Linked DNA regions of Homo sapiens: regions 2, 3 and 4 are each reported to be linked to region 1. Evidence: microRNA targets listed by miRTarBase, many of them from high-throughput screens and not tested one by one. Region 1 holds a microRNA gene; each other region holds the end of a gene's coding sequence.
The links. Region 1 holds the annotated microRNA hsa-miR-6780b-5p (UGGGGAAGGCUUGGCAGGGAAGA, at 4,513-4,535, opposite strand). A microRNA usually pairs through its seed, bases 2 to 8, with sites in the 3' UTR of a target mRNA and lowers its output. Matches are read on the target gene's strand: a 7mer-m8 pairs with bases 2 to 8, a 7mer-A1 pairs with bases 2 to 7 and ends in A, and an 8mer does both.

Region 1 (7,691 bases):
AGGAGCCAGGCTGTGCAGAGCTAAGCCCCACAGGTGGAACCCTCCCTAGCTCCAGAGGCCTTAGGGCTCTTCCCACAACTGTGCAGAACACACAGTCACCACCCTACTGGGCCCTATCAGAAGGGGCAGCTGGACACTCTGGGAGGACCACAGTCCGATGGCCATTCCTAGATAAGTGATGCCCGAGTAGAAGCAACCCCTTTCCAGAAAAGCAAAGCTCCTGGTTTGAGGTGTCAGGGACACTGGAGAAACAGGCAGCTAAGAGGTTTCAAGGCCAGGCACTCACACTGAGGTCATCATTGAGGGCGCAGGCTTCTAGCACCTCCTTGTACAGCTGTGCATCAAATGTCTTCCCAAAGAGGATGTTGTCTCGGATGGTGGCAAACTGGATCCAGGGTTCCTGGGTGGCCAGGCCAAAGCCCTTGGACAGCCCCCGCACTGCCACATGCCCACGCAGCCTGCAGAGAGCCAGGCGAGCAATATGAGGACCAGCTCTCCTCTGGGTCCCTCCATGCCCAGCCCTTGACTCCTAGAAGCCTCCCCAGGCTGCTGTCTTCTACACAGGGTCCCCCTTCATGTCACATGACTGAGATGGCAGCTCCTGAGGTCAAGGGGTCCTAATGAAGCCCATTCTGGGCGAAGAAGGGAAGAAATAGCTCTTTGGCTACAGCCAAGCAGCTGTTGTACTTACATCTGTTCAGGAGCTCAGTGGAGAGTATGGCCACCACATTGTACTTGTTCCCATCTGAAAACAAGGTCCTCCCTCAAACCTATGCTCCTCTCTGGATCCCTTCTCTGCACAGCCACATTTCTGAAAGAATAGCTGACACTGGATGTTTCCATTCCTTTGCTGACTATTATAGCATTTAAAACACTCTGGTGTAATGATTACAATGATTCGCTTTCTTGGCCACCTCCTTCTTTCCAGATTGAAAACTCTCCCAATAAAGGGACCATGCGTTGCTCTTCTTAGTACCCCTGACCCCCAAAAGGTGTCCAACACATAAGAGGGGCTCAGTGTTTGCTAAAGGACAAAGTAAGGACAGGGGTGCATAGGAGGTTGGTTACCTGTGGAGCTCTCCAGCGATGGCAGCCAGCAGGGAGCTCTTCCCACAGCCGACCTTCCCCACGATGCCCACCAGCATACCCTGCAAGGAAGCCACACAAGCATCTGCTATTGGTAGGAGACAGGACAGAGGTGGCAGTGGTCTCCCTCTTGACACTCTGGGCTGCCAGTCCTCCCACTGAGGCTTCTCTTTTCTTCTTTCTTTAGTGTGTAGGGAAAGAATTCTCCGCTTCACAGGCTGATCAACAAATCAGGCTCTAGAAAAGTAGGGTGTTTTTTTCTCCACTCAGAGTGGCTATCAGTTTCACTGTCTATGTGAAGGGCCTCTGAAGGGGAGCAGCATGCCAGAGAGAATGGGAGGAAACCACCCAAGAACTTCCAAGGTAAACTCTGAGACAGGCACTCCAGAACGGGAGAGGGAAGGGTAGAATTCCAGGCTTTAGGGCCTGGATGATGGGTTGGCTAAGTCGACCTGTGGCTAGAGTTACCATATCTCAGGGGAAAAAGCAGAGCTTTGCATAGATCCCTATTTCTGTGGCTTAAATTTTTCTGTTTACCTTTTTTTTTTTTTTTTTTTTTTTTGGTCATATGTTCATGGAGCTATCTCCCTGCTCAAAAAAATATAAAAAAAAAAAAGTCCTAGTTCCTTCTCTAGAAGGGACTGGGCTCTCAGAAGCTCTATCTGCCTGTGATGCCCCAACCCTGCCAGCCAGGGTTGACCCAGCTACAAGTGGGCACCACTTCTGAGACCTTTCCATGGGAATTTGGGATCAGGTCCCAGAGGCAGCTTCTCCTTGTTGGCTGTAACTTGTAAACTCGAGCATTCTCTGTAGTCACATCTTCTGCTCAGTGGAGGGTGTGTCCACAGAGAGAAGAGAACCAGGCAAATACAGGGAGAGAGGCACACAGAAGCAGAGAGCTCTGCGAGTTGAGGCCTGGTTCTGGGCTGTTTCTAAGATCCAGCTGCGTTCCTGCCTTTGGATTCTGCAATGTATCTCTACATCCTTATTATAAATTCTTGTTTGCTTAAGCTAGCTCTAGTGTGTTTCTGTAACTTATACCCAAAAAAGCCCCAACTAACACATTAGCAAAATTCCTTTGTACAAATCTAGCCTTGTCTTGCCTGAACTAAGAGGAAAAACAAAACATACAGCCCAAGCCAGAAACGTGAGCCAAATGTGGTGGAGGCAATTCAGCCACCACCAGAGAATGCCGGGTTGAGCTGTGGGGCACAGGGTTGGACAAAGGTCAGGAGAGAGTGAAAACTCAGAACAGGAGGTGAACAGGAGTTGGCTTATTGCCAGGAATGCCCCATTTTAAGTTCTTTGTATGCTGTAGCATGAGTCACAGGGTGTGATTGCTTTTCACCAGCCTAAACAGAGGATCCCCATTTGCAAAATATTTCTTGGAAGCACTTGCTGGGCCTCTCCCCCAGATCCCCAATCTGGGGGAGATGCTACATAAACCCCAGGGCCTGTTCTGAATGCTGCAGCTTCTGAGGGACATGGAGAGACAAGCACACCCATTGGTCTGGACTGGATGGATACAAGCTGCCTAAAGACCAGAGAGAGGTGCAACTATTCTGAGATTCAGATGTGAGGTGTCATCTCCTCATGATTAGAACCTGCTCACCAAATGCCTATCCCTCCTGCAGCAATTAGAGCTGCAGAGCCATCAGCTATGATTGGCTCGGTCACTGCTTCTCTGACATGAGTTCCCATCTCTCTCGTTAGTCTGAGGACTCTCCCAGGGTGTCTGTCCAACAAACCTTTTTCACTTCGAGATGACTGATGAAGGTCTCCAGGCTGGTTCCAACTGGGTCCCAGGAGAACAAGGCTCCATGCAGCTCCAATACTGTAGATGGCTCTGCAGGGGGATCTGAACAGAGAAGCCACTTGATTTGGGCTCCTAATCTACCACAATCTGTTTGGGGAGGGTAAATCATGTAATTCACTTGCCAGCCCCATATCTACCTGCCCAAAGCTAAATGAGTCTGTTTTGGATTCCGCTCTCTCTAAGCCCTCTTGGTGACATCTATGCGCAGCACCCAAGTGGCTCCACTTCCCTCCTCACCCTGTGCCAGGTTCTGCCCACTAGCTTCCCATTACCTGGGCTGTAGTAGGCCTGGGGGTTGTGGTTTGGAAGGTCGAGGAAAAGCTGGATCCGGTCCAAGGACACTTTGGCCTCCAGGAGACCATTGATCACCCAAGGGAAGTTGTTGAGAGGAAGAATGAGCATTCGCACCAGTGCCAGGGCCGTGAACACCTGAGTGAGGTGGGTGCAGGGTGAAGCCCCAGGAGTTATCTAAGGGCCTGTTTCTATGGGAAGCCCTGTGGACAGGTCTACGGAGGGAAGAACTGGGCAATGACAGAACTGAAGGGCTGGCTGGCCAATCCTGGGATCAGATGTGGCAGAGATGGTCACTTAAAGAATCCTAGAAATTCCAATGTTCCTCAAGGGATTCAGGTTGCATTTTTTTTTTTCTTGACGAGTCTTGCTCTGTCACCTAAGCTGGAGTGCAGTGGCATAATCTCGGCTCACTGCAACTTCCACCTCCAGGGTTCAAGTGATTCTCCTACCCTAGCCTCCTGAGTAGCTGGGATCACAGGCATGCATCACCACACCTGGTTAATTTTTATATTTTTAGTAGAGACAAGGTTTCACCATGTTGGTCAGGCTGGTCTCGAACTCCTGACATCAGGTGATCCGCCTGCCTTGGCCTCCCAAAGTGCTGGAATTACAGGTGTGAGCCACCACGCCTGGCCAAGGTTGCATCTTTTTAACTAGGCAGGCCTAGCTCATTTTGAGTCTTTTTTTTAGAATTTCCAAGTAGCAACATCACCTGGCCTTGGCTAGACCCAGGATTGCATCATACATTTTTTTCCTAAGGCCATTAGAACGAGGATGAAGAGACCTAACCCCAAGCCTGGAACTGAATAGAAGCTGGAGTGAAAGGTAGAGGAGAGGAAAGAAAGGAACTCCTTCACAGAGGGGAGGGTTATATATCCAAGGCCCCCACAAAAAGGTTTCTTCAGTTTTCCCTTGGTTGAGAGATGAGGCAGTCAGGGATCCCTCCCTCCTTCTCAGCCAGCACTGAGGGCCCAAGCCTCTGTCTTCACTTCGCTGAAGTCTCCTTGATGCTGGTCCCCTTCCTTCCTGGTCCTCACCTTGGTGGCAGTGAGCTGGTGCCCCATGAGGACATAGGTGATGAAGATAACGATGGAGATGACAACCGGTAGGGCAGCCCACAGGTATACACAGGCCGCATCCAGGTATTTGATGACCCGGAGTCGCCCCAGCTCTCGAGCCCGGCAGGCCTCTACTCGGGCTCCCAGTGCCTGCTCCCACCCGCAGAACTTGATGACCCGAATGCCACTCAGCAGCTCTGTCACAAGCTAGGGAAAGGAGACAAGGGAGAGGCGTGAAGTGGAGGCACTGCTCATGTGTCTTCCCTGCCAAGCCTTCCCCAGGCTGCTGGCAGAATGTTCAGTACTCTAAGCTCCCAGATACTCTGCACTGCCCTAGTCTTGGTTTTCTTCCTCACCTCAGTACTTTCTGGAAATCCTGCCCTTCAAATCCTTTTCAGCCCTGGGTTGCTTCCCCTCCCAGTCTCTTACTTCTCCATTTGCTCCAGCTGGGGACAGCTTGGAGTGGGAATTCCCCACCTTCCTAGGAGGAGTGGTGGAAGGTGGAGCCAGGTCACCACAGTGGAGTAAAAGCTCTCCTCCCATTAGATGAGGGACAAAGGGCTATCTCCCAAAACCAAAAGATGTGGGCTTCGGGGGCTGGCCCCCCAGTTCCGGCCCCCGGCTTGAGTGGCACAGAAACTATTCCTGTAGAAGTACACAGGCATAAGAGGCCACACTACAGCCCAGGGTCAAACAGGCTAATGGGCCCAGGGAAGATGGGCAAGGGCCAAAACTCCTCGTCTGTAGCTGTCACAGGTAGGGGAAAATGCCTCATGCCATAACCATCTATCAACCTCCCTTCCCTCCAGGAGCACTCTGAGCTGTTCCACTAAGGGTCGACAACTATGCTGTATGAACCCCCAGGACTGCCATCCCCTTTGTGAAGGTACCCACAATCACTGCAGAACCCAGAGCTCTGCAGATTCAGCCAAACCCTAAACACCTGGAGTTGACCCAGGCAGGAAAGTGACCTATTCCCTTCCCCTCAGCCTACCCAAAGAGGCAGCTGAGGTTCTCCTAGGTCTCTACATGCAGCCATGGGGTGGTCTGTGCCCTAGATAAGGAGGTTGGAGACTTGGGTCCCAGCTCTGGCCCTAAAGACCTGTTTGGAGCCAGACAGATGACTTCCTACCTCCCAGGGTGGCCACATGTATTCAGAGCTTACTTTGTGACTGGCACTACACTAAGCATTATCTCATGAGATCCTTACAACTCTACAAGGTAAGCTACTACTATTCTCACTTTACAGATGAGGAAGGGGAAGCCCAAATAGGTTAAGTGACTTGTCTGAAGTGATTGAACCAGTAAGTGTAGAGCCAGGATTTGAACCCAGGTCTACCTTTCTCCAGTCTCAGCTCTTAACTTTGAGGTCACTCTCACTCCCTCAGGTAGTGTGCATGGGAAGACCTGGGGACCTGGGCTGGGTGGGGTCTCCAGATAGCTGAGGGACCCCAAGTACCCGCTCACCTTAACCCGCGCATCCTTGTGCTGTAGCATTTCCTGGTTGCTGGCCATGATGCGGGTGGCAATCACTTTGTTGACGGGTACCAGCAGCAGTGCCAAGATGAGACCACCCACGAAGGCCACGCCTACCTGCTGGTACAGCAGGTAGAGGGTGATGGCCAGTTGCAGGGGCAGGCCCCAGGCTTCATGGAAGCTCCCAGCAAAGTTAAGCAGCCGTTCAGAGTCAGTGCCTAGTAGGTTCAGGGCCTCCCCAGTAGGAGGGCGGCTGGGCCCCAGCTGTAAAGCCTTGCAGTACAGGATGTTCAGCACAGCCCCCCGTGCCTGAAGTGTTACCTTATATACCTCATACCCATACTGATTCTGCAGCACAGCACCCAGCACAGCCCCACCGGCTAGCCCCAGAGCATAGAGCAGGCCGTGGCTTAGTGGCTCCTGCCCCTCTTCCAGGAAGCCCACCAGTAGGGAGAGCAACAGGGGCCCTGAGAATCCCAACATGGTCCCCACCAGCTTCAGCAGTCCAAGTGCCAGATAGCACCGTCCAAAGGCCCCATACAAGGCCCTCCACAGCCGTGCCCCCTCCTGCCAGTGTGCCTGGAAGACACGAGCCAGGTAGGTTGGCTGCAGTCTGTGGGGGAGGCGGCAAATGTCCTGAGGCTGCCGGAGCTCTCCACAGGCCCCACGGGCCAGCAAGGGTGCCAGCCAGGCATAGGAAAAGCGTGACAGCCAACTCTCCCCATCTTCAGCCACCTCAGGTTCTTGATCCTCGGGCAGGAGGGGCTCCTGAGCCCAGGGTTCTCGTGGTCCCCCAGGAGCTGCCCATCCCAGTGCATAGGCCAAGAGTGCAGCCAGCTGCAGGATGAGCAAGCATAGGCGGGCCATGGGCCCTGGGAGAAGTGGGGGCAGAAGTGTGCCTCGCTGGCAATGCCACAACACGGTCAGCACTAGGGCTGGAGCTGGCAGCAAGGCTACCAGGGCCAAGGCCAAGGGACCCCGGGAGTGGCCATGAGGGGAATGTGCCAACACCCACAGGGCCAGGCTGTGGCTGATCCAGGCCACAGCTGCCACGCACCCTGCCAACACCTCTAGCCCTATGGGTCCTGGGCCTGCCCCTGGTGGCAAAGCAACTGGAAGAAGGTCTAGCAGCGGGAAGACGGAAAGCAGGAAGGAAGCTGCAAGTCGGAGGCGCCATCCAGGACTGCAGGGTAGGATGTAATCTGGACTCCTGGGGACAAGGGGGAAGACAAGGAGGCACATCGTGGCTGACTCAGGAGCCAGACATACCCCTCACCTCCAATAATTCACTTACCTAAGGAATCAACTCCCTTCCTGCCTTGCACATCTTATCCCTACTCCACTTTACCTCAGAACCCAGGGTCTTTTCTCCCAGGAAGTCTTCCCAGATGAACCTAACTCATTTTCTGACCAACTGAGCTAACCGGCCACCTGAACCTAACTCATTTTCTAAACTACCCACACCATTTCTGATTCATGTTTTTTTTTAAACCACAGACATTAACAATTTTGAGGTAAGATTGTACTTAACATGAAGACTAACTAGGAAAAAAAAAATCCTGGGTACTACGTTTGCTACTTTGGTGATGGGATCATTAGAAGCCCAAACTTCAGCATCACATAATATATCCATGTATAATAACAAACAAGCACATATGCCTCATGAATCTAAAATTTTAAAAAAAATCCAGGCTGGGCGCCGTGGCTCACGCCTGTAATCCTAGCACTTTGGGAGGCTGAGACGGGAGGATCGCCTGAGGTTAGGAGTTCGAGACCAGCCTGGCCAACATGGTGAAACCCCCATCTTTACCAAAAATGCAAAAATTAGCCAGGCATGGTGGCAGGCACCTGCAATCCCAGCTACTCAGGAGGCTGAGGCAGGAGAATCGCTTGAATCTGGGAGATGGAGGTTGCAGTGAGCTGAGATCACGCCAATGCACTCCAGCCTGGGTGACAGGGGA
Region 2 (7,691 bases), not on the chromosome of region 1:
GAGGCAGCCCGGCGCCGCTGCCCGCCAAAGTGGACGAGGCCACCAGCGGGCTCATCCGCGAGCTGGCGGCCGTGGAGGACGAGCTGTACCAGCGTATGCTGAAGGGCCCCCCGCCAGAGCCCGCAGCCAGCGCCGCCCAAGGCACCGGGGACCCCGACTGGGAGGCGCCCGGGCTGCCCCCTGCCAAGCGGCGCAAGTCCGAGTCGCCCGACGTGGACCAGGCCAGCTTCTCCAGCGACAGCCCGCAGGATGACACGCTCACCGAGCACCTGCAGAGCGCCATCGACAGCATCCTGAACCTGCAGCAGGCCCCCGGCCGGACGCCCGCGCCCTCGTACCCCCACGCTGCCTCGGCCGGCACCCCCGCATCCCCGCCGCCCCTGCACAGGCCCGAGGCCTACCCACCCTCCAGTCACAACGGTGGCCTCGGCGCCAGGACGTTGACCAGATAACACCGGGCCGCCTCCCCTTCCCCGTCCCCTCCTCCCGAAGACGCCGGGACAGTCGGGTGTCCGCCCTCAGCCTCCTGGGGACTCGAGCCGGGGATCCCCTGACGGTTTTTCTTGCCTAAGTTATTTGAGTCACAAAGGCCTCCTTCCCTGCCGCCTGCTTCAGCTGGGTTGCTGGGGGGTGGGCGTGGATTTAGGGAGGGGGCTGTGATGTAAAACGTCTCCCCTGCCAAAGGAGGGGCAAAGTGCTGTGTCAGTTCCTGTTTCTTCCCATTTCCTGGCACACTCTGCCCCTCTGTCCGGGGGACACGCGCATGTGTTTGCCAGGGATGGGGCCACCGGGTTGATGCCAACGCTCCGGGTGCCTGTCTTGTCTGTGTGGCTTCTCAGATGGTGGAGGGTGCTGGGAGCTGGCAGGGTCCTTCCAGACAGTCTCAGCCTCTCCCCGCCGCCCCCAACAGGCTGTCAAACAAAACCGGAGAGGGGGTGGGGGAGCCAGCCTCCCAGCGTGCTGTGCCCGCAGGCACCCGTGTGACATCCGCACGTCCAGCTCCGTGACCTGTGTGTGTGTGTGTGTGCACAAGTGAGTGAGAGATTTCGAACGCCCACCCCTCGACTTTGAAATCTGAGCAAAACAAGAAACTGGGGTCTTCCTCTCCCCCGAACCTCTCCCCAGCTAGTCTTCCCTCTGTTCTTCCTGCCTCCAGCCGCCCGCGCCAGATTTTGAAATCTCGGAGACAAAACTAGTACTGTAAGATAAATTTTTTTGTACTGTATTTATTGTGTATAACGATTTTTTTAAAGGAGAATTCTGTACATTTAGAACTCTTGTAAATTAAAAACCGATCCTTTTTTTAAAACTGTACTCATGCCCCCTTGGCCCATTGCTTTTGGGTTTGTGAGGGTGGGGGAGTGTTTGGATCTGGGATTGTGAGGCCTTCTTCCGCATGCATCTGTTGAGCACCTGCTGAGTACCAGGCCCCGTTCTAGGCTCAGGGGGTTCAACATGAACAAGGCAGACAAGAGTCCCTGCTAAGCCGGTAAGCTGACTTGTTAGTGGGGAAGGCGGGTGGTAAACAGCTAAGCCAGATCAAGCCAGTTCTTCTTATTTCCGGTAAGGTTCTATAATCTCTGCATACACTCTGAGAATTAGTGAATACTGAGCCATTGCCCCCAGGGAGACAGGGTTAGGTTTCTAAGGGCCTCTGATCACCACAGTTCAGTCAATACATCACCTTAGTTTACATGTGTTGCTGTTTAAAAACACTTCTTTATGTATTTTTGAGACGGGCTCACTCTGTCACCCAGGCTGGAGTGCAGTGGCACGATCGTGGCTCACTGCAGCCTTGATCTCCCAGGCTCAAGTGATCCTCCCACCTCAGCCTCCCGAGTAGCTGGGATTATAGGCGCACCACCACGCTTAGCTATTTTTTTTTTTAATCTTTCTGTAGCAATGGGATCTCACTATGTTGCCCAAGCTGGTCTGGAACTCCACGGCTCGAGTGATCCTCTGGCCTTGGCCTCTCAAAGTGCTGGGAATACAGACGTGAGCCACCACGCCCAGCCCTAAAGATACCTTATTTCATTTATATTGTTGATTCATTCACATTGAAGTCATGCCAACAGCATTATAACTGGAACCTGGAGCAAGCCTATTTCACACATATATTTTATCTTTTCTCCAAAGGCACATCACAGCTTCTTGGTGCTTTAAGGTCACTAGACCGCACTTCAGCTGTACGCTTGGGCCCATTTTAAACAATGAGTCACCAACAAAAAGCACAAAAATGTGAAAAGCGTGGGACTAGATAAACCAAGAAAAGGACGCGTGTTTATGGTACGAGAGCCAAAACGAGGGCAGAATGTCGCCTTATTCAACCTCAGCTGGGAACGAACGTCTGTGTTGGGCAACTTGATATTTTGCTGCCGTGTGTGTGTTGAGAGTCTTGACTTGGGGGTTACAAAGAAGTTTTGATGAGCAGATAAATGCACAAATATGGCATTTGCAAATAGTGAGGGTCCACTGTAAATGTATACAGTGTCAGATGCCCATATAAAGAAGAATCAGGCCAGGCACGGTGGCTCACACCTGTAATCCCAGCACTTTGGGAGGCCAAATCGAGTGGGTCACCTGAGGTCAGGAGTTCGAGACCTGCCTGGCCAACATAGTGAAACCCCATCTCTACTTATAAAAAATATATATATATACAAAAATTAGCTGGCATGGTGGCACACGCCTGTAGTCCCAGCTTCTTCAGAGGCTGAGGCAGGAGAATCGCCTGAACCCAGGAGATGGAGGTTGCAGTGAGACGAGACTGACACTCCAGCCTGGGCAACAGAGTGAGACTCTATCCCCCGACCAACAAAAAAAAAGAAGAAAAAAAATCATGCTAGGTGTATTAGTCCCCTCAAGCTGCTATAACAAAATGCCCCAAATAGGGCAGCTTAAAACAACAGATATTTATTCTCCCACAGCCCTAGAGGCCTGAAGTCTGAAAACAAGGTGGCATCAGGGCCATGCCCACTCCAGAGGTGCTAGGGAAGGATCCTTCCTTGTCTCTGCCAGTTTCTGGTGGCCCCAGGTTCTCCTTGGCTTGTGGCTGAATCAGTCCAATCTCTGGCTGACTTCCCACTGTATCTCTTCTCTTCTAAGGGCATCAGTCATATTGGAGTTTTGCCCATCCTACCAGTATGCCCTTGTCATAACTTAATCATATCTGCAAAGATCCTGATTCCCTTTTTTTTTTCTTCTAGCTTTCTTTTTCTTTTTCTTTTTTTGAGACAGATGTCTTGCTCTGTCGCCCAGGCTGGAGTGCAGTGGCACGATCTCAGCTCACTGCAATCTCTGCCTCCAGGGTTTAAGTGATTCTCCTGCCTCAGCCTCCCGAGTAACTGGGACTACAAGCATGTGCCACCACGCCCAGCTGATTTTTTGTATTTTTAGTAGAGACGGAGTTTCACTGTGTTAGCCAGGATGGTCTCAATCTCCTGATGGCATGATCCACCGGCCTCAGCCTCCCAAAGTGCTGGTATTACAGGCGTGAACCACCGCGCCCAGCCCTTCTAGCTTTCTTCAGATCACAGACCCTGATTCCAAATAAAATTACATTCACAGGCACTAGGGTTAGGACATCAGCCTATATTTTGAGAGGACAGAACAACTCAATCCGTAATGCAGGGTAAGGAGGTGGGTGTCACAAGTGAGTGACAATTATCTGGGCTGGTGGTGTGGGGGTAAAAGAATTTACCAAGACAGTGGTAGGTTAAAAAAAAAAAAAAAAAAGCAGATTTATGGGCTCACGCCTGTAATCCCAACTCTTTGGGAGGTGGGCGGATCACTTGAGGTCAGGAGTTCAAGACCAGCCTGACTAACAGTGAAACCCCATCTCTACTAAAAATACAAAAATTGGCTAGGTGCAGTGGCTCACGCCTGTAATCCCAGCACTTCGGGAGGCTGAGGTGGGTAAATGACCTGAGGTCAGGAGCTTGAGACCAGCCTGGCCAACTTGGCAAAACCCTGCCTCTACTAAAAAATACAAAAATTAGCCAGGTGTGGCGGCAGGCACCTGTAATCCCAGCTACTCAGGAGGCTGAGGCAAGAGAATCACTTGAACCCAGGAGGCAGAGGTTGCAGTGAGTTGAGATCGCGTCATTGCACTCCAGCCTGGGTAACAAGAGTGAAACTCCATCGAAAAAAGGTAATAAATAAATAAAAATACAAAATTAGCAGGGCGTGGTGATGCACACCTGTAGTCTCAGCTACTTGGGAACTGGGAGGATCACTTCAGCCCAGGAGGCAGAGGTTACAGTGAGCCAAGACTGCACCACTGCACTCCAGCCTGGGCAACAGAGTGAGACTCCATCAAAAAAAAAAAAAAGGCAGATTTATGAAATAAAGTAGGAAAATATATTGCAAAGTTGCAATGGGCAACACAGCCAGGGAGAAGCTGACTGCAAGGAAACAAAGGCTTGCTGGGGGTTGTATAGGATGGAGTTGGTTTTTTCATTTGCTTTTTAGATAGAGTCTCGCTCTGTCACCCAGGCTGGAGTGCAGTGGCATGATTTCAGCTCACTGCAACCTCCGCATCTCGGGTTCAAGCAATTCTCCTGCCTCAGCCTCCTGAGTAGCTGGGATTACAGGCACCCATCACCATGCCCAGCTAATTTTTGTATTTTTAGTCGAGATGGGGTTTCACCATGTTGGCCAGGCTGGTCTCGAACTCCTGACCTCAAGTGATCCGTCTGCCTCTGCCTCCCAAAGTGCTGGGATTACAGGCGTGAGCCACCATGCCCGGCATATAGGAGAGTTCATGTTGTGTGCTGAAGAGGGCTTTGTGCAGTACTGATAATGCCAGGGTTACAGTGAGCTCACTTGCAGGTGTCTGGTGATACTTGGGCGCAGGAAGATTGAGTTATTTGTATAGGAGGGCTATGTCCTGGACAGTAAAGAAAGGCAGACCTGTAACTTAGCTGCTTTATCTTTTTGCTTTCCTGCATTCTCAGCAGCCTGACTCTCCCTAATTAGGACTCCGCAAGTGGGCAAGACAGCTGTCAGGCCCTAGTATGCCTTTGTGTGAACTAGAAAAGGGCACCCCTCTCTCCTGGGCCCAGAATTTGAAGAGCAGAGCATGAGCTGGGCTCCAGTCCCCTCTCACCCATTCAGTGAGTGCCTTGTGCAGTGAACAACCTGCCCAACTGCACATCAGGGCCCTCGGGATCAGGTGGGAAGGGAAAGATTCTTTGAGGAGGTGATATTTGAGCAGAGACATGCAGGAAAAGAGGGAGGAAGCCACAGGAGAGCTCTCAGGGAAGAGCATCCAAGGCAGAGGGAACCGCCAGTGCAAAGGCCCTGTGGCAGGAGCCTGCCTGGAGTGTCGAGGAACAGCGAAAAAGCCAATGCGGCTGCAGCCCATAAGTGATGGGGAGAGGTCTGGAGGTGAGGTCCGAGGGGGAACAAAGGGCACCTCATCGTGCGGGACCGTGTCCTCCATGGGGATGATTTCGCTGTTACACTGAGACGGGAGCTTCAGGAGGGCCCTGAGCGAACTTAGGTTCCCCAGCACCCTCTGGTGGCTGTTTGCGGGAATAGACGAGGGGTAAGGGTGGAAACCAAGCGCAGCGAGGAGGCAACTGCTGTGAGTCCAGGTGGGTGGTTGTGGCGGCTGGACCGGGGTGATGCACCCTGTTTCTCTGCAGGCCCCTGGAAGTGTTTTGTTTGTTTATTTTTTGGTTGTTTTTAGGACACAGGGTCTCGGCCCAGCACAGTGGCTTGCTCCTGTAATGCCAGCACTTTGGGAGGCAGAGGCAGGTGGATCACCTAAGGTCAGAAGTTCGAGACTAGCCTGGCCAAAATGTCGAAATCCGGTCTTTACAAAAAAAAAAAAAAAATTAGCTGGGTGTGGTGGTGTGCGTCTGTGATCCCAGCTACTGGGGAGGCTGAGATGAGAGGATTGCTTGAGCCCAGGAGATGGAGGTTGCAGTGAGCTGAGATTGCACCACTGCTTGCACTTCAGCCTGGGCGATACAGCCAGACCTTGTCTTAGAGAGAGAGAGAGGCAGACAGACAGACAGAGAGAGAGAAGGTCTCACTGGGTCACCCAGGCTGGAGTGCAGTGGTGCAATCACAGCTCACTAAAGCCTCGAACTCCTGGGCTCAAAGGATCCTCCTGGCACAGCCTTCTGAGTAGGTGCATACCACCTCACTTGGCTAATTTTTATTGTTTTATTTTTATTTTTTGTAGAGACAGGGGTCTCACTGGCCTATAGCAGTCCTCCCGCATCAGCCTCCCAAAGTGGTGGGATTACAGGCATGAGCCATGGCAATGGGCCCCCTGGGGTTGTATGTGGGTGGGAAATTGATATCTGGGGTCTCAGAGGGATGGACCATCCCCTTTCCTAGCTCTAGAACTACTCCCTCCACGTGTGAAATAAAGCACTATAGGAAAACAGCTGTTTCTTAAAAAAAAAAAAAATTTTGGCTGGGCGGGGTGGCTCATGCCTGTAATCCCAGCACTTTGGGAGGCCGAGGCAGGCGGATCATGAGGTCAGGAGATCGAGACCATCCTAGCTAACACAGTGAAACCCCGTCTCTACTAAAAATACAAAAAAATTAGCCGGGCGTGGTGACTGGTGCCTGTAGTCCCAGCTACTCAGGAGGCTGAGGCAGGAGAATGGTGTGAACCCGGGAGGCGGAGCTTGCAGTGAGCTGAGATCCCACCACTGCACTCCAGCCTAGGTGACAGAGTGAGACTCCGTCTCAAAAAATAGATAAATAATAAATAAATAGATAATTTTTTTTGAGATGGAGTCTCACTCTGTCGCCCAGGCTGGAGTGCAGTGGCACAATCTTGGCTCACTGCAACATCCGCCTCCTGAGTTCAAGCCATTCTCCTGCCTCAGCCTCCCAAGTAGCTGGAATTACAGGCATGCGCCACCACGCCTGGCTAATTTTTTTGTACTTTTGGTAGAGACAGGGTTTCACCATATTGCCCAGGCTGGTCTTAAACTCCTGGGCTCAAGCGATCCACCCTCCTCGGCCTCCCAAAGTGCTGGGATTACAAGTGTGAGCCACTTCGCCCAGCCTAAATGGCTGTTTCTTAACATCCTTGGATCACAAAACTCTCGGAGAGACTCTCCTGAAAGACCCCTCCTGATTACTCACAAGGACTCGTCCACAATTTCCACGGGCTCCGGGACTCAGTTCTGCAAGGCTGACTGCCTGCAGGCGAGCGGAAGAACAGAACAGCAGTGACCAACCTTTACTAAACAGGGAACCGCATGGGTTAGCATATCTGGTCCTCACAGCAGCCCCAGCGTGGGAACTAATAGGCCCAGCTTGCAGGTGAGGAAACTGAGGCCCCAAAGATGTAGTACATGGCAGACTGGGCTGTGAGCCAACCTGCCTCAATGCATTCATTAGAGAGAGCTGGCTGTGGGGCCAGTGAGCGATGAGTGTATACAATCGCTGAAAATATCCACAACTGGGCTGGGTGCGGTGGCTCATGCCTGTAATCCTAGCACTTTGGGAGGCCAAGGCGGGTGAATTGCCTGAGCTCAGGAGTTCAAGACCAGCCTGGGCAACATGGTGAAACCCCGTCTCTACTAAAAAATACAAAAAATTAGCCAGGCTTGTTGGTAGGCACCTGTGGTCCCAGCTACTGGGGAGGCTGAGGCATGAGAATCGCTTTAACCTGGGAGGCAGAGGTTGCAGGGAGCTGAGATCGCACCACTGCACTCCAGCCT
Region 3 (7,691 bases), not on the chromosome of region 1:
TTGTTAAATTAATGCTTCTGTATTTCTATAGAAAGCAGAACCAGAAAGAAGAATGGGGAGAAGGAAGTATTCCCGCCTAAGGAGGCACCCCGAAAGGGGAAGCGAGGCCGGAGGCCCAGCAAACCCCGACTGATTCCTAGGCAGACGTCCGGGGGCCCCATCTGCCCTGACTGCGGCTGTACCTTCCCTGATCATCAGGCCCTGGAGAGCCACAAGTGCGCCCAGAATCTAAAAAAGCCTTACCCTTGCCCAGACTGTGGGCGCCGCTTTTCCTATCCATCCCTGCTGGTCAGTCACCGGCGGGCACACTCCGGCGAGTGCCCCTATGTTTGTGACCAGTGTGGCAAACGTTTCTCCCAGCGCAAGAACCTCTCCCAGCACCAGGTCATCCATACAGGGGAGAAGCCCTATCACTGCCCTGACTGTGGTCGCTGCTTCCGGAGGAGCCGGTCCTTGGCCAATCACCGGACCACACACACAGGTGAAAAACCCCACCAGTGCCCTAGCTGTGGACGTCGCTTCGCCTACCCCTCCCTGCTAGCCATCCACCAGCGTACACACACGGGAGAGAAGCCCTACACTTGCCTCGAGTGCAACCGCCGCTTCCGCCAGCGCACGGCCCTCGTCATCCACCAGCGCATCCACACGGGCGAGAAGCCCTACCCGTGCCCGGACTGCGAGCGGCGCTTCTCCTCCTCCTCTCGCCTGGTCAGTCACCGGCGTGTGCACTCTGGGGAGCGTCCCTATGCCTGCGAGCACTGTGAGGCCCGCTTCTCCCAGCGCAGCACGCTGCTCCAGCACCAGCTCTTGCACACCGGAGAGAAGCCCTACCCCTGCCCAGACTGTGGGCGTGCCTTCCGGCGGAGCGGCTCCCTGGCCATCCATCGCAGCACGCACACAGAGGAGAAGCTGCACGCCTGCGACGACTGTGGTCGCCGCTTTGCCTACCCCTCACTGCTGGCCAGCCACCGGCGCGTGCACTCGGGCGAGCGGCCCTATGCCTGCGACCTTTGCTCCAAGCGTTTTGCTCAGTGGAGCCACCTGGCCCAGCACCAGCTGCTGCACACGGGGGAGAAGCCTTTCCCCTGCCTCGAGTGTGGCCGGTGCTTCCGCCAGAGGTGGTCTCTGGCTGTCCACAAGTGTAGCCCCAAGGCCCCAAACTGTAGCCCTAGATCTGCTATCGGGGGCTCCAGTCAGAGGGGCAACGCCCATTAGAAGGGGAAGGACTGCCTACGTTCATTTCATTTTATGGAGGGTCCCAGAAAAGGGAAGGAGGAGCCCCAGGTCATACAGGGCAGAGTCAGAACTAAACCCGGGTCTCCTGCTGCACAGAGCTGAACTTTGTATCTTGCAATGCGCTGGCTGCCTCCCTGTGCGTGTCTGGAACAGTCCCATTAGGAGAGGTGACGTCATTTGCTTAAAGTTTTCCAAGCTACCCTATCCTAAAATAGTTTGTGTGGATATCAGGGCTAAAAGTTCTCCCCATCTATTTTAGGGGCTGTCTGCTTTTCTAGTCTGTCCACACAGGGATTACCTGTCATCTTGCATGCAATCAGGAGAATCTCATAGGGGCAGGACCTTCCCCTACTCTGCCTCTTCCTCCATACTAGGTTGGAAAAATCTGGTTTAGCCCACTTTTTGCAACACTCCTGCCAAGTGGTCTTCTACCCATTGCTTGAAAATCTCTCTTGACAGGGAGCTCACTACCTCACAAGGCAGGTCATTTCATTGTGGGATCTATAGAAGGTTAAGTACCACATTCTCCTCTAAACCTTGCCTACGACATGTTTAATACTTCATCTACATAGCAGCCCTTCAGATAATCACAACCACTTTGCCCCCAAGTTTTCAGGTTAAGTAGCATGAATTTGGTCATTCCTTAAAGACAGGGTTTCAATTTCCACACATGATCTCTGCAAACAGGCACTGGGTTTTCAGTGTCCTTTTTGAAGGGTCATATAAAAATAAGGTAACACCACAGTGCCACTACACCTTCTGGGGCTGGACTTGTTTCAGCAGCTTTGGTTGCACTGAATTTGGGGGAGCTGCATGGTACCAGGGGTTTATTGGGTTGCAGATATATAAATGCCCTAAACTTAAAAAAAAAAAAAAAAGCTATAAAACTAAGTCTTCATCTTGTATTTGGAAAATTGGTTCAAGCTGGGTATGAGACATAAGTGTAGTCAGCTCTGGGAGAAGGTTGCTCTTAAGGAGAAGCAGGGACCTGTGGTTTAGCAGCAGGAAGTGCAAATGGGACTGGCTTGTGCTCTACCTGGCAGACCTGGATTGGCTTCAGGCAGCCAGTGCCTGGAAAAGCCTGGAGAATTGGGCCGTACTTGACCCTGATTCTCATCAGGCACAGATGAATCACAGGCACCTAAGAATCGGCACAGAACTTCCATGAGGCCTCAGTCAGCATTTTTTCACAAAATGAGCTGAGGCCATTCAAGGAGGCTAGAAAGAGGGAACTGAATCCAGAGAGGAAGAGTCTATAGTCATCAAGTTGTATCCATGCCAGCCTCCCTCCACAGAGGTGGCAGCAGCGTGGCTCAATCTGATCCACCTCCATGGCACCCACTGGGTAGGTGCTTCATAAAGCTTTACCGAGTTAAATGTGAACAAGGCCTACCACTTTGCCTTGGGCAGCTGCACCAAATTAGAATTTCCAGATGTGACTCATCTCATATTCCAACAGCTGGAGTGGGTCATCCTTTACCCCTGTGGCTCCTTCCTACAGCTCTCCTGATCTCAGCACAAGCAGGGGAGCAGCTGGGGGAACACAGCTTTATGTAATTACCTCTGTTCAATATTTAGCAAGTTGCATTGTAACATTGTAACTGTTTGTTTCTCCTTGGATGATGAGCTACCCCCAAGAAGGGGTCATATCAGATTGGGTCTCATTAAAATGTCTGATGAATGAATTCTGTTCCTTGTGGAATTACTTTTTACAAAATATCAATCTGGTTCCTTGACTCTGTAGCAATCTTTGCTATTCTGATGGGAGAGCCAGACTTTCAGACCAGGAGACCTGTCCTGCCCAGCAGAGCCCTATTACCAGGTCTGCCCAGCCCCCTGGTAGAGCTGGCTCTTTCCCCTTCCCTTTGCCACCAGAACGCAAGGATTTCCTCAGCTAGGAATTGTATAACTTTCTTTGGGACTGGATTGTAATTCATAAAACTTGGTAGCCACTGATGGCTAAATTCCATTATGTGGTCTGTGGAGAGCAGAAATGGGAGATAACCTCCTATGTTCCCTGAAGCACTTCAATCCACCCGAGCTGGGATCCTGGTTCCTTATTCAGTGAGAGATCCTAGCATCCTTCCAATAACTTCCCCTTTCCGCTTAAGGTGGTTTGAGTTTCTGTTATTTGCAATCAAAAGAATGAACTAATACACAGCCTCAGTCTGGGTTAATCTCCCATCTGCCTCCATGCCTAGATATGAGCTGTGAGGAAAAACACTGCATTGCTGCTGAGAGGGGCCACGATACCTTTCCTGACCTTCAACCTCAGTAGAACCTTCAATATTATGTCTTCTGGGCTGGGTGCAGTGGCTCATGCCTGTAATCTCAGCACTTTGAGAGGCCAAGGCGGGAGGATTGTTTGACCTGGGAGTTTGAGACCAGCCCGGGCAATATAGCAAGACTTAAAAAGCAACAACAGTAATAAGACAATATTATGTCTTCCATATATATATATATATATAGAATTAAAGTTAGATATAAACTAATAGTTTATATACAAATGTATAAATATAAATATAAATAAATAAGTACATAAATACTCTGGTAGTCCAGAGCAGGACCACCCTATAGGCAGTGTGCCCAGAGAAGCATTCCATATATATATATATATTTTTTTTTTTTTTTTGAGATGGAGTCTTGCTTTGTCGCCCAGGCTGGAATGCAGTGGCGTGATCTCAGCTCACTGCAACCTCCTCCTCCTGGGTTCAAGTGATTCTCCTGCCTCAGCCTCCCTGGTAGCTGGGACTACAGGTGCCTGCCACCACACCCGGCTGATCTTTGGTATTTTTAGTTGAGACAGGATTTCACCATGTTAGCCAGGATGGTCTCGATCTCCTGACTTCATGATCCACCTGCCTCAGCCTCCCAAAGTGCTGGGAATTCAGGTGTGAGCCACTGCTCCCTGCCCATTCCATATATTTTTAACCAGTAAATACCTCCGCTTTCACTAGGAAAATACAAGGGGTCAAATAGGAGCTTCTTTAACATTCTGCTCCCTGCCATTACTCCAAATTGACCAGTGTGCCCACTCATATTTACTTCTGATCCATCTCAGCAAGTCCTGGATATACAATGTTCAGCAACACAGCTGGGCCTGGGTTTCATCCCCTTCTGCCCCTCAGGGACTTTGCTCTATTATTCCTACTTTCTCGTCTCCTAGTTTTATGGTTTCAGATTCCCTTTCTTGTCCCAAAGACACTCCAGCCTATAAGCATGCTAAGATCTGCCTTTAAAACAATAAAAAAGAACTTTTCTCTTGATCCCTATTATTTTCAGCTAAATGCCTTGAAGCAGTAGCCTACATTCACTGAATCCACTTTTTTCTTTTCTTTCTTTTTTTGAGCTGGAGCCTCACTCTGTCACCCAGGCTGGAGTGCAGTGGCACGATCTCTGCTCACTGCAGCCTCCACCTCCTCCCAGGTTCAAGTGATTCTGTGCCTCAGCCTCCTGAGTAGCTGAGACTGCAGGTGTATGCTATCACACCCAGCTAATTTTTGTATTTTTAGTAGAGACGGGGTTTCACCATGTTGGCCAGGCTGTTCTCAAACTCCTGACCTCAAGTGATCTGCCTGCCTCAGCTTCCCAAACTGCTGGGATTACAGGTGTGAGCCACTGCACCTGGCCTGAATCCACTTCTGTTTATTCTTTGGCCTACTGCAATATTAATAGCCACTTGACTGAGCTTTTATGATGTTCCATGTACTGTGTTAGGCACTTTATATACATTCCAATCCAATGTTCACAAGAACTCTATAAAGTAGGTGTTAACAGACACTCCTCCATGAGTCTCCCTGCTGTGACTCCAAATTGACCAGCGTGCCCACTCATGTTGACTTCCGATCCATCTCGGCAAGTCCTGCCTTCACATCTTGTTGAGTTGGCAAAAATTGCAAGTCCCTGCCTTCAACAGATTCTCAGACTTGAGCCTATTCACAGATCTAGAGTCTCCCCTTCTCTAGATCTGGGGAGGCTGGGTTCCCTTGATGAAGGACTTGATGTCAGTTCTACACTGACAAAAACATGCTGTAGAGCTTCTAGCCTTTTCCAAGTGTACCTGCAGCCATTTAGCAAGCACATTAGATTGGAATGTATATAAAGTGCTTAACTCAGTACATGGCACATCATGAAAGCTCAGTCAAGTGTCTATTAATACTGCAGTGGGCCAAAGAATAAACAAGTGGGTTCAGTGAATGTAGACTACTGCTACTGTGAGCATCAGAGAAGGGGAAGTAACTAGAGTTTCCAGAGATTTGTTGACATTGGACCTAAACTAATTTTAATTCTAAGAGATACAAAATTTAGTTTACCAGGTACAATGGACTCATGGGATCAGGTGTGTGTAGGAATGGGTTAACTCAGGAGGTGTAGGTTGTTCAAACCCTGCACATTCCAAAGAAAGCTCATCTTTAGAACTGGCATTTGGTCTGCTCCTGGGAAATAACTTCTGAGCCCGTGGAATATTTTATTTGATTAGTGTTTTTGTATGCCAGAGGTCTTGGCATACAGCATGCCATCATGCTGTACCAGTCTGAACAAATAAGTTTATCCTAAGTGTGATTTATAGTGAACATTGTTTTTTGCTCTGGGGTCTGAGTAGCAGAGATCAGTAGTATGGACACTCCAAGCCTATGTGACTAATCCCCAATAAAAACCCCACACATGGCCGGGCGCGGTGGCTCACGTCTGTAATCCCAGCACTTTGGGAGCGCGAGGTGGGTGGATCACCTGTGGTCAGGAGTTTGAGACCAGCCTGGCCAACGTGGTGAAACCCCGTCTCTACTAAAAATACAAAATTAGCCAGGTGGTGGCACACACCTGTAATCCCAGCTACTTGGGAGGCTGAGGCAGGAGAATTGCTTGAACCTGGGAGGTGGAGGTTGCAGTAAGCTGAGATCGCACCATTGCTCTCCAGCCTGGGCAACAAAAGTAAGACTATCTAAACAAACAAACAAACAAACAAAAAACCAAAACAAACAAACAAAAAAACCCTGCACCCTAAAGCTTGGGTGAACTTCTCTGTTTGGGAACAATCAGCACCTGTTGTCAAAAATCATTGCAGGGAGAAAAAAGCACGTCCCTGTGATACCCCACTGGGAGTAGACACCTGAAAGTTTGTGCCCGGTTGCATCCGGATTTTGTCCCATGTACCTTATCCCTTTGATGATTTTAAATCTGTGTCGTTTTGCTTTAATAAACCATAAATGTAAGTATAACCAATAAATAAAAATAAATAAGCAAAGCCCTTGCCACTCATTACCCAGAACAATTCTCAGGAGTGTTGGCAGCAAGCAAACCTTGAGGGAGAGGTAATGTCTGCATCCAGGACAAAGAGCAGCTTCCTTACTGCTTACTATAAAACAGCAGATGGCTGGGCATGGTGGCTCACAACTGTAATCCCAGAACTTTTGGTGGCCAAGGCAGGAGGATTGCTTGAGGCCAGGAGTTTGAGACTACCCTGGCCAACATAGCAAGACCCCATCTTATTTATTTATGTATTTATTTAGAGAAGGAGTCTCACTCTTGTCACCCAGGCTGGAGTGCAGTGGCGTGATCTTGGCTCACTGCAACCTCCACCTCCTGGGTTCAAGCAACTTTCCTGCCTCAGCCTCCCAAGTAGCTGGGATTACACTCACCTGCCACCATGCCCAGCTAATTTTAGTATTTTTGTAGAGACAGGGTTTCACCATGTTGGTCAGGCTGGTCTCGAACTCCTGACCTCAGGTGATCTGCCTGCCTTGGCCTCCCAAAGTGCTGGGATTACAGGCGTGAGCCACCGCTCCCAGCCAAATCCCATCTTTAAAAAGGAAAAAAACAGCAGGAGCTTCCTGTTCCTCCCCTATGATGCAACTCACTGTGTGTCTAGCATCCATCTGGGCACATCCCACATTGCCCCTGCAGGGGGCAGAAGGGAACCAATGCAGGCATGCTCATGCTGCTTGTTGTGCCCTGAACAGTAAGGTCTTTTGTCTCTGTTTTCTGACAGCATCCATGAAACAATAACAGACCCATTTATTAACCTATAAGTAGGGCAGCCTCAAATTCCAGATCTGACTGTAGGTATTGTTTTCCTTGACCAGATGAGGAAACAGAGGCACAGTGACATTAAATAGCTTGTCGACCGGGCACAGGGTGCACGCCTATAATCCCAGCACTTTGGGAGGCCGAGGCGGGTGGATCACCTGAGGTCAGGAGTTCGAGACCGGTCTGACCAACATGGTGAAATCCCGTCTCTACTAAATGCAAAAACATAGCCAGGCATGGTGGCACATGCCTGTAATCTCAACTACTTGGGAGGCTGAGGCAGGAGAATCACTTGAACCCGGGAGGCAAAGGTTGCAATGAGCCGAGATTGCGCCATTGCACTCCAGCCTGGGCAACAAGAGCAAAACTCCATCTCAAAAAATTTAAAAAAAAATAAATAACTTGTCCAGGATCACATATCTGGGTGA
Region 4 (7,691 bases), not on the chromosome of region 1:
GGTTAGTTAGCAGGGGAGTGGTTCTAAAAGGCGGGGCCTGGATCCGAGGTGGGGGCATATAGTGAACACAGTCTAGAAGAGCCAGAATCGCGCTGGAATGTAACTACAAAGGCTTTACCCACCTCTCCACTCGCCATCTCCAGGTTCGCCAACTGCGAAGATGATATCACCTGCGGCCCGACTTGGCTCCCACTCTCAGAAAAAAGGGGCTGTGAGCCCAGCTGCCTTACCTATGGACAGGTGAGCGTGGGGCAGAAGGTGAAGGGAAGAGACTGAGATCCTCCCCACCAAGTTATTTATTTATTTATTTATTTATTTCTGAGACGGAGTTTCATTCTTGTCACCCAGGCTGGAGTGCAGTGGCGCGATCTCAGCTCGATGCAACCTCCGCCTCCGGGGTTCAAGTGATTCTCCTGCCGCAACCTCCCGAATAGCTGGGATTTCAGGCGCATGCCACCATGCCCAGCTAATTTTTGTATTTTTAGTAGAGTCAGCGTTTCACCATGTTGGCCAGGCTGGTTTCGAACTCCTGACCTCAGGTGATCCGCCCACCTCGGCCTCCCAAAGTGTTGGGATTACAGGTGTGAGCCACCGCCCCCGGCCCCCACCAAGTTCTTTCTTACCGTGTCTAGACCCCAGAGACCGGATTGGTACTCCCCAGGTCCCTGCTCCCACCCTTCCCTAGCCCAACCTCCTACTGGGTTGTGCCCTTTGACCCCAAAAGCTCTCGAAGTCCAGATTTGCCCTTCCCAAGAAACCATTCCTGCTCTGGGTCCATCCACATTTTACCCTGGAGGACCCAGAAGCCCAGTCACTCTCTACAAAACCCCAGCCTTGATACAGACCTCTCTGCGCGCCCCCCAACTGCCCCAACCCTGATTCATCCCGCTAGGGCCCAGTAAGAACATTCACCCTCCCCAAGGACCTGCCCCCACTCACGTTCCGCACATAGACTCCCAGGCCGCACGCTCCGGCTCTGACCCCAATCCCTAAGGAATTTACACATTTTTCCCTTCCCGAGGCCACGCCCCCCACGTCTCTGGACTCCGCCCACTAGGGCCTTAACTCCACTTTTTCCTAGACCTTCGCAGACGGGACGGACCTTTGTCGCTCGGCTCTGGGCCACGCCCTACCGGTGGCTGCTCCTGGAGCCCGTCACTGCTTCAACATCTCCATCTCCGCGGTACCTCGTCCCAGACCAGGACGACGGGGCCGGGAAGCTCCCTCCCGGCGTTCCCGCAGCCCTCGCACCTCCATCCTGGACGCTGCGGGCAGCGGGAGTGGCAGTGGAAGCGGCAGCGGCCCCTAGCGGACGCGTGGCCCTGAGTTGGGGGAGCGACCCTTCCCCCAGCCCCGCCCCTCAGGACACCCAGAACCCCACCCCTCGTCCTCTCGGCCTTCTGTAATAGTTTTGAGATGTCTGTCCCTCCTCCCTGGAGCTCCAGAGACCCACCCCTCTCCAGGTTATCCCAGAAATGACCCAACTCTCTCACTTTTCCCTCTCCCCTTTGAATAAAGTCGCCAGCTAGAGCACGTGACGAGTGTGGCTGCTTCTTGGGGAAATAAGTCGGAAGGAGAATTGCCAGAAAGTAACGGATGTCTCACGTCTAATCCTCAGACCCTAGAAGTAGTGACTGACTCATACTAGAGTGTAAATGATAGATAGCCTGTGCCCTAGAGCAGTCAACATAACTGGGAATACCCAGTTGTTGGAAATGGAGAGGGGGTCAGAACAGGGGCTGACAAGGGCAGGAGGGGTTCCTTCCCACTGTGTGCCACCAGGGCTGCCAAGAAGCTGCCTAACTTGTATAGGCCTCAAGACACACTTCAAGGCCAGGTGCAGAGGCTCATGCCTGTAATCCCAGCAATTTGAGAGGCTGAGGTGGTTGGATTGCTTGAGCCCAGGAGTTCAAGACCAGGCTTCGCAATACGGTGAGAACCTGTCTCCACAAAAAAAAAAAGAGAGAGAGAGAAAGGAAGAAAAAAGAAAAAGAAAAAGAATATTTTTAATTGGCCCAGTGTAGTGACCCGTGCCTGTATTCCTACCTGCTCAGCAGGCTGAGGCAGGAGGATCGCTTGAGCTCAGTTCAGGGCTGCAGTGAGCCACGATCACACCACTGTACTCTAGTCTGGGTGACACAGTGAGAGCCTCTCTCTCAAAAAAAATAATAATAATAAGACATGCAGACACAGAATACCAAGCTGGCCCTGGTAGTATGTGCTGTACTCCCAACTACTTGAGAGGCTGAGGTAAGAAGATCACTCGATCCCAGAACATTGAGGCTACAGTAAGCTATAATCCTGCCACTACACTCCAGCCTGGGCAAAAGCCAGATCCCAGCTTTTTATTTATTTATTTATTTTGAGACTGAGTTTCGTTCTTGTTGCCCAGGTTGGAGTGCAATAGCAGGATCTCAGCTCACTGCAACCTCCTCCTCCCGGGTTCCAGTGATTCTCCTGCCTCAGCCTCCCTAGTAGCTGGGATTACAGGCACCTGCCACCAAGCCCAGCTAATTTTTTGTATTTTTAGTAGAGATAGGGTTTCACCATGTTGGCCAGGCTGGTCTCAAACTCTTCACTTCAGGGGATCCACCCACCTTGGCCTCCCAAAGTACTAAGATTACATGTGTGAGCCACCACGCCTGGCGTTTTTTTTGTTTGTTTGTTTGTTTTTTTGAGACAGAGTCTAGCTTTGTCTCCCAGGCTGAATTGTAGTGGTGCAATCTTGGCTTACTGCAACCTCAGCCTCCTGGGTTCAAGTGCTTCTCGTGCCTCAGCCTCCAGAGTAGCTGGGATTGCAGGCACACACCACCACATCTGGATAATTTTTGTATTTTTAGTAGAGATGGGGTTTCACCATGTTGGCGAAACCTCAGGTGATCCACCTGCCTCGGCCTCCCAAAGTGCTGGGATTACAGACACAAGTCACCATTCCTGCCCAAGACCCCATATTATACATGTACAGACTACAGAATTTGGTGGGAATGACCCCGTGTAGCGTCCACCTGTGTTCACAACCCAGCTCTACCACTTACTTATGCTGTAACTTCGGTTTCACACGTTGCCCAGATTGAGCCTCAGTTTCTTCATCTTTAAAATGGGAATGTGGGCCAGGCACGGTGTCTCATGCCTGTAATCCCAGCACTTTGGGAGGCCGAGGCAGGTGGTTCATTCACTTGAGGCCAGGAGTTCGAGACCAGCCTGGCCAACATGGCGAAACTCCGTCTCTACCAAAAGTACAAAAATTAGCCAGGCAGCCGGGTGCGATGGCTCATGCCTGTAATCCCAGCACTTTGGGAGGCCAAGGCGGGCAGATCACGAGATCAAGAGTTCAAGACCAGCATGACCAACATGGAGAAACCCCATCTCTACTAAAAAATACAAAAATTAGCCAGGCATGGTGGGGCGCACCTGTAATCCCAGCTACTCAGGAGGCTGAGGCAGAAGAATCGCTTGAACCTGGGAGGTGGAGGTTGCAGTGAGCAGAGAACGTGCCATTGCATTCCAGCCTGGGTGACAGAGCAAGGATCTGTCTCAAAAAAAAAAAAAAAAAAATTAGCCAGCTGTGGTGGCACATGCCTATAATCCCAGTTTCTTGGGAGGCTGCGGTAGGATAATCACTCGAACCCAGGAGGTGGAGGTTGTGGTGACCTGAGACAGTACCACTGCACTCCAGCCTGGGTAACAGGGTGAGACCTTGTCTCAAAAAGAAAAATTACAATAAAATAAATAAAATAAAACGGAAATGCATTCCTTTCACAGGATTGAGAAAGGAGAATTCAGTGAGTTAGTGCAAGTTTTTCTGCTTATCTAACACTGCATACCAAACAATTCCAATATAGTGATGAAAAAAAGGTCACTAGGCTGGGCGTGGTGGCTCATGCCTGTAAGCCCAGCACTTTGGGAGTCCAAGGCGGGCGGATCGCAAGGCCAGGATATCGAGACCATCCTGGCTGACATGGTGAAACCCCGTCTCTACTAAAAATACAAAAAATTAGTCGGGCATTGTGGCAGGCACCCGTAGTCCCAGCTACTTGGGAGGCTGAGGCAGGAGAATGGCATGAACCTGGGAGGCAGAGGTTTTAGTCAGCTGAGATCACACTACTGCACTCCAGCCTGGGCGACAAAGCAAGACTCCATCTCAGAAAAAAAAGTCATTATCGGCTGAGTGCAGTGGCTCATGCCTGTAAGCCCAGCACGTTGGGAGGCCGAGGCGGGCAGATCACCTGAGGTCAGGGGTTCAAGACCAGCCTGGCCAACATGGTGAAACCCTGTCTCTACTAAAAATAAAAAATTAGCTGGGCATGGTGGTGCGTGCCTGTAATCCCAGCTACTCAGGAGGCTGAGGCTGGAGAATCACTTGAACCCATAAGGCAGAGGTTGCAGTGAGCCGAGATCATGCCACTGCGCCCCAACCTGGGTAACAGAGCCAGACTCCGTCTCAAAAAACAAAACAAAAAAAAAGAAACAACAACCAGCACTTTAGGAGGCCGAGGCAGGTGGATCACGAGGTCAGGAGTTCGAGACCAGCCTAACCAACATGGTGAAACTCCATCTATACTAAAAATACAGAAAATTAGCCGGGTGTGGTGGCGCATGCCTGTAATCCCAGCTACTCAGGAGGCTGAGGCAGGATAATTGCTTGAACCCAGGAAGCAGAGGTTTCAGTGAGCCGAGATCACGCCATTACACTCCAGCCTGGGTGACAGAGCGAGACTCCATCTCAAAAAAAAAAAAAAAAGTTACTATCTTTCATGGTTCTGGGGTTTGACTTGGTTCAGCTTGGCAGTTCTTCCTGAAGATCTGTCATATACTTGCAGACACAGTGGCTGGGGCTGGAATCACGTTGAAGGCTTCCTTGCTCACATATCTGGTAGTTGGTGTTGGCTGTTGCCTTGAACTTCTGCTGGGGCTGTTGGCCAGAATATCTGCACATGGCCTCTCTGTGGCTTGGGCTTCCTCTCAACATGGCAGCTACGGTCTAAGGGAAATATCCCAAGAGAGCAAGCCAGGTGGGATCTGTTTCAGTTCTGATGACTTAACCTTGGAACTCACACAGTGTGACATCTCTCACTTTTTATTCACTACAGTGAGTCACTGAAGCCAGCTCATATTCAAGGAGAGGCATCATAGACTCCACCTCCAATGGGGGGGATGTCAAATAAAATGCTTAGAAAGTGTGGCACACAATTATCACTCAATGAATGTAGACCGTCTATTATGATTGCTTCTGGTGGATGATGTTACATACTGGGTTACTGATGTTATAGACTGTGTTATTGTGACAAGGAGGAGGAACAAGCATTCAAGGAAGTAAAGCAAGTCTTTAAAGGATCTCCAGTCAGATAATCAAGCCATGGAGGACATTCCAAGTGAAAGGCCTGGAGATTTCATATTCTGGGAACTCTGAGCTGACCAGGAAGCCTGGGATAGACCATGGGAGATGGGATCTGGTCCTGGAAGACACTGGATGCCAGGCAGAGACACTTGAACCTGAGGATAGAGTGTGATGTACCAGGAGCTGTGGCTCACACCTGTAATTCTAGCACTTTAGGAGGCCGAGGCAGATGAATTCTTTGAGGTCAGGAGTTCCAGACCAGCCTGGGCAACAGGGCAAAACCCCATCTCTACTAAAAATTAAAAAAATTAGCTGGGCATGGTGGCACACACCTGTAGTCCCAGCTACTTGGGAGGCTGAAGGTGGGAGGATTACTTGAGCCAGGAGGTGGAGGTTGCAGTGAGCCATCATCTGCCCTCCAGCTGAGGCAACAGATGGAGACCGTGTCTCAGAAAAAAAAAAAAAAGAGAGAGACAGGAGGGTGTGATGCAAGGTTTGGCAGTTCGGGCTACAGTCTCAGCTACTTGGGAGGCTGAGGTGACTGTATTGCTTGAGGCCAGGAGATTGGGAATAGCATGGGCACCATAGCCAGACCTCATCTCCAAAATAAAAAAAAAAAAAAAAGTTAGGCTGGACAAAATTAGGTAGGACAGCTCACGCCTGAAATCCCAGCACTTTGGAAGGCTGAAGCAGGAGAACTGCTTGAAGCCAGGAGTTCAAAATCAGCCTGGGCAACATAGTAAGACCTCATCTCTACCAAAAAAAACAAAAACCAAAAAAAATTAGCGAGGTGCAATGGTTTGTGCCTGTAGTCCCACATACTCAGGACCTCATTTAGAAAAGGAAACATGTGAAAGCCATAGGTTTTTTGTTTTTGTTTTTTGAGACGGAGTCTCGCTCTTGTCACCCAGGCTGGAGTGCAGTGTGGCACGATCTCGGCTTACTGCAACCTCTGCCTCCCAGGTTCAAGCTATTCTCCTGCCTCAGCCTCCTTACTAGCTGGGATTACAGGTGCCTGCCACTATGCCTGACTAATTTTTGTACTTTTAGTAGAGACGGGGTTTCACCATGTTGGCCAGGCTGGTCTTGAATTCCTGACCTCAGGTGATCCACCTGCCTTGGCCTACCAAAGTGCTGGAATAACAGTCATGAGCCACCGTGCCCAGCCTTGTTTTTGTTTTTTTAAAACAGGGTCTCACTCTGTTGTTCAGGCTCTTAAGTGCAGTGGTGCAATCTCGGCTCACTGCAGCCTCAACCTCCCAGGCTCAAGTGATCCTCCCACCTTACCTCCCCAAGTATCTGGGACTACAGGCGCTCACCACCACGCCCAGCTGATTTTTGTATTTTTTAGTAGAGACAGCGGTTTCACTATGTTGGCCAGGCTGGTCTTTAACTCCTGACCTCGTGATCCGCCACCTTAGCCTCCCAAAGTGCTGGGATTATAGGCATGAGCCACTGTGCCTGGCTGAGACCCTTTTTTTTTTTTTTTTTTTTTGAGATGGAGTCTTGCTCTTTAGCCCAGGCTGGAGTGCAGTGGCGCTATTCTCGGCTCACTGCAAGCTCCGCCTCCCAGGTTCACGCCATTCTCCTGCCTCAGTCTCCCGAGTAGCTGGGACTACAGGTGCCCGCCACCACACTGGCTAATTTTTTGTGTTTTTAGTAGAGATGGGGTTTCACCATGTTAGCCAGGATGGTCTCAATCTCCTGACCTCGTGATCCGCCCACCTTAGCCTCCCAAAGTGCTGGGATTACAGGTGTGAGCCACCCGGCCTTTTTTTTTTTTTTTTTTTTTTTTTGAGACGAAGTCTCACTCTTGTCCCCCAGGCTGGAGTGCAAAGGCGCAATCTCGGCTCACTACAACCTCCACCTCCCGGGTTCAGGCAATTCTCCTGCCTCAACCCCTGGAGTAGCTGGGATTACAGGTGCCTGCCACCAGGCCTGGCTAATTTTTGTATTTTTAGTAGAGATGGGGTTTTACCATGTTGGCCAGGCTGGTCTAGAACTCCTGGCCTCAGGTGATCCACCCGCCTTGGCCTCCCAAAGTGCTGGGATTACAGGCGTGAGCCACCGCACCCAGCCAACTCTGTTTCTTAAAAAAAACCTCAAAAACATGACACTCGGGATCTTCAGCAGGCCAGTGTGGAACCCTGGACTCTTTCCAACTCCCGTGTGAGCTTCACGCTGCTGGGACGGGGACCCAGCACTGAGTTCTCACAAATTCAAAGGCTGTTGTTAGAAGTAACATTTGCAGGCCGGGCGCGGTGGCTCATGCCTGTAATCCCAGCACTTTGGGAGGCTGAGGCGGGTGGATAACCTGAGGTCAGGAGTTCAAGACCAGCCTGGCCAACTTGGT

Region 2: the mRNA of BICRA is a reported target of hsa-miR-6780b-5p. Seed matches in the 3' UTR shown: 7mer-m8 at 469-475.
Region 3: miRTarBase lists ZNF689 as a target of hsa-miR-6780b-5p. Seed matches in the 3' UTR shown: 7mer-m8 at 1,579-1,585.
Region 4: miRTarBase lists RTBDN as a target of hsa-miR-6780b-5p. Seed matches in the 3' UTR shown: 7mer-m8 at 1,342-1,348.

What each region holds. Positions count from the first base shown.
Region 1 is chr6:43,431,391-43,439,081 of GRCh38, reverse strand. It overlaps MIR6780B (microRNA 6780b), which reads right to left and starts at 4,540; the gene lies at 4,462-4,540. ABCC10 (ATP binding cassette subfamily C member 10) reads right to left here. Exons shown (of 22, transcript NM_001198934.2): 3 at 5,722-6,940; 4 at 4,234-4,461; 5 at 3,175-3,331; 6 at 2,835-2,944; 7 at 1,069-1,148; 8 at 287-458.
Region 2 is chr19:47,701,964-47,709,654 of GRCh38, forward strand. BICRA (BRD4 interacting chromatin remodeling complex associated protein) reads left to right here. Exons shown (of 15, transcript NM_001394372.1): 15 at 1-1,314. The coding sequence ends at 452. Among named protein-coding and RNA genes, the nearest start is that of EHD2, 7.6 kb to the right of the region's middle.
Region 3 is chr16:30,597,788-30,605,478 of GRCh38, reverse strand. ZNF689 (zinc finger protein 689) reads left to right here. Exons shown (of 3, transcript NM_138447.3): 3 at 32-2,921. The coding sequence ends at 1,215. Among named protein-coding and RNA genes, the nearest start is that of ZNF689, 8.8 kb to the left of the region's middle.
Region 4 is chr19:12,819,324-12,827,014 of GRCh38, reverse strand. It overlaps RTBDN (retbindin), which reads left to right. Exons shown (of 6, transcript NM_001270441.2): 5 at 144-240; 6 at 1,082-1,533. The coding sequence ends at 1,309. RTBDN-AS1 (RTBDN antisense RNA 1) reads right to left here and starts at 1,282. Exons shown (of 3, transcript NR_187779.1): 1 at 1,103-1,282; 2 at 123-230. RefSeq lists an enhancer at 739-1,515 and a cis regulatory region at 1,084-1,884.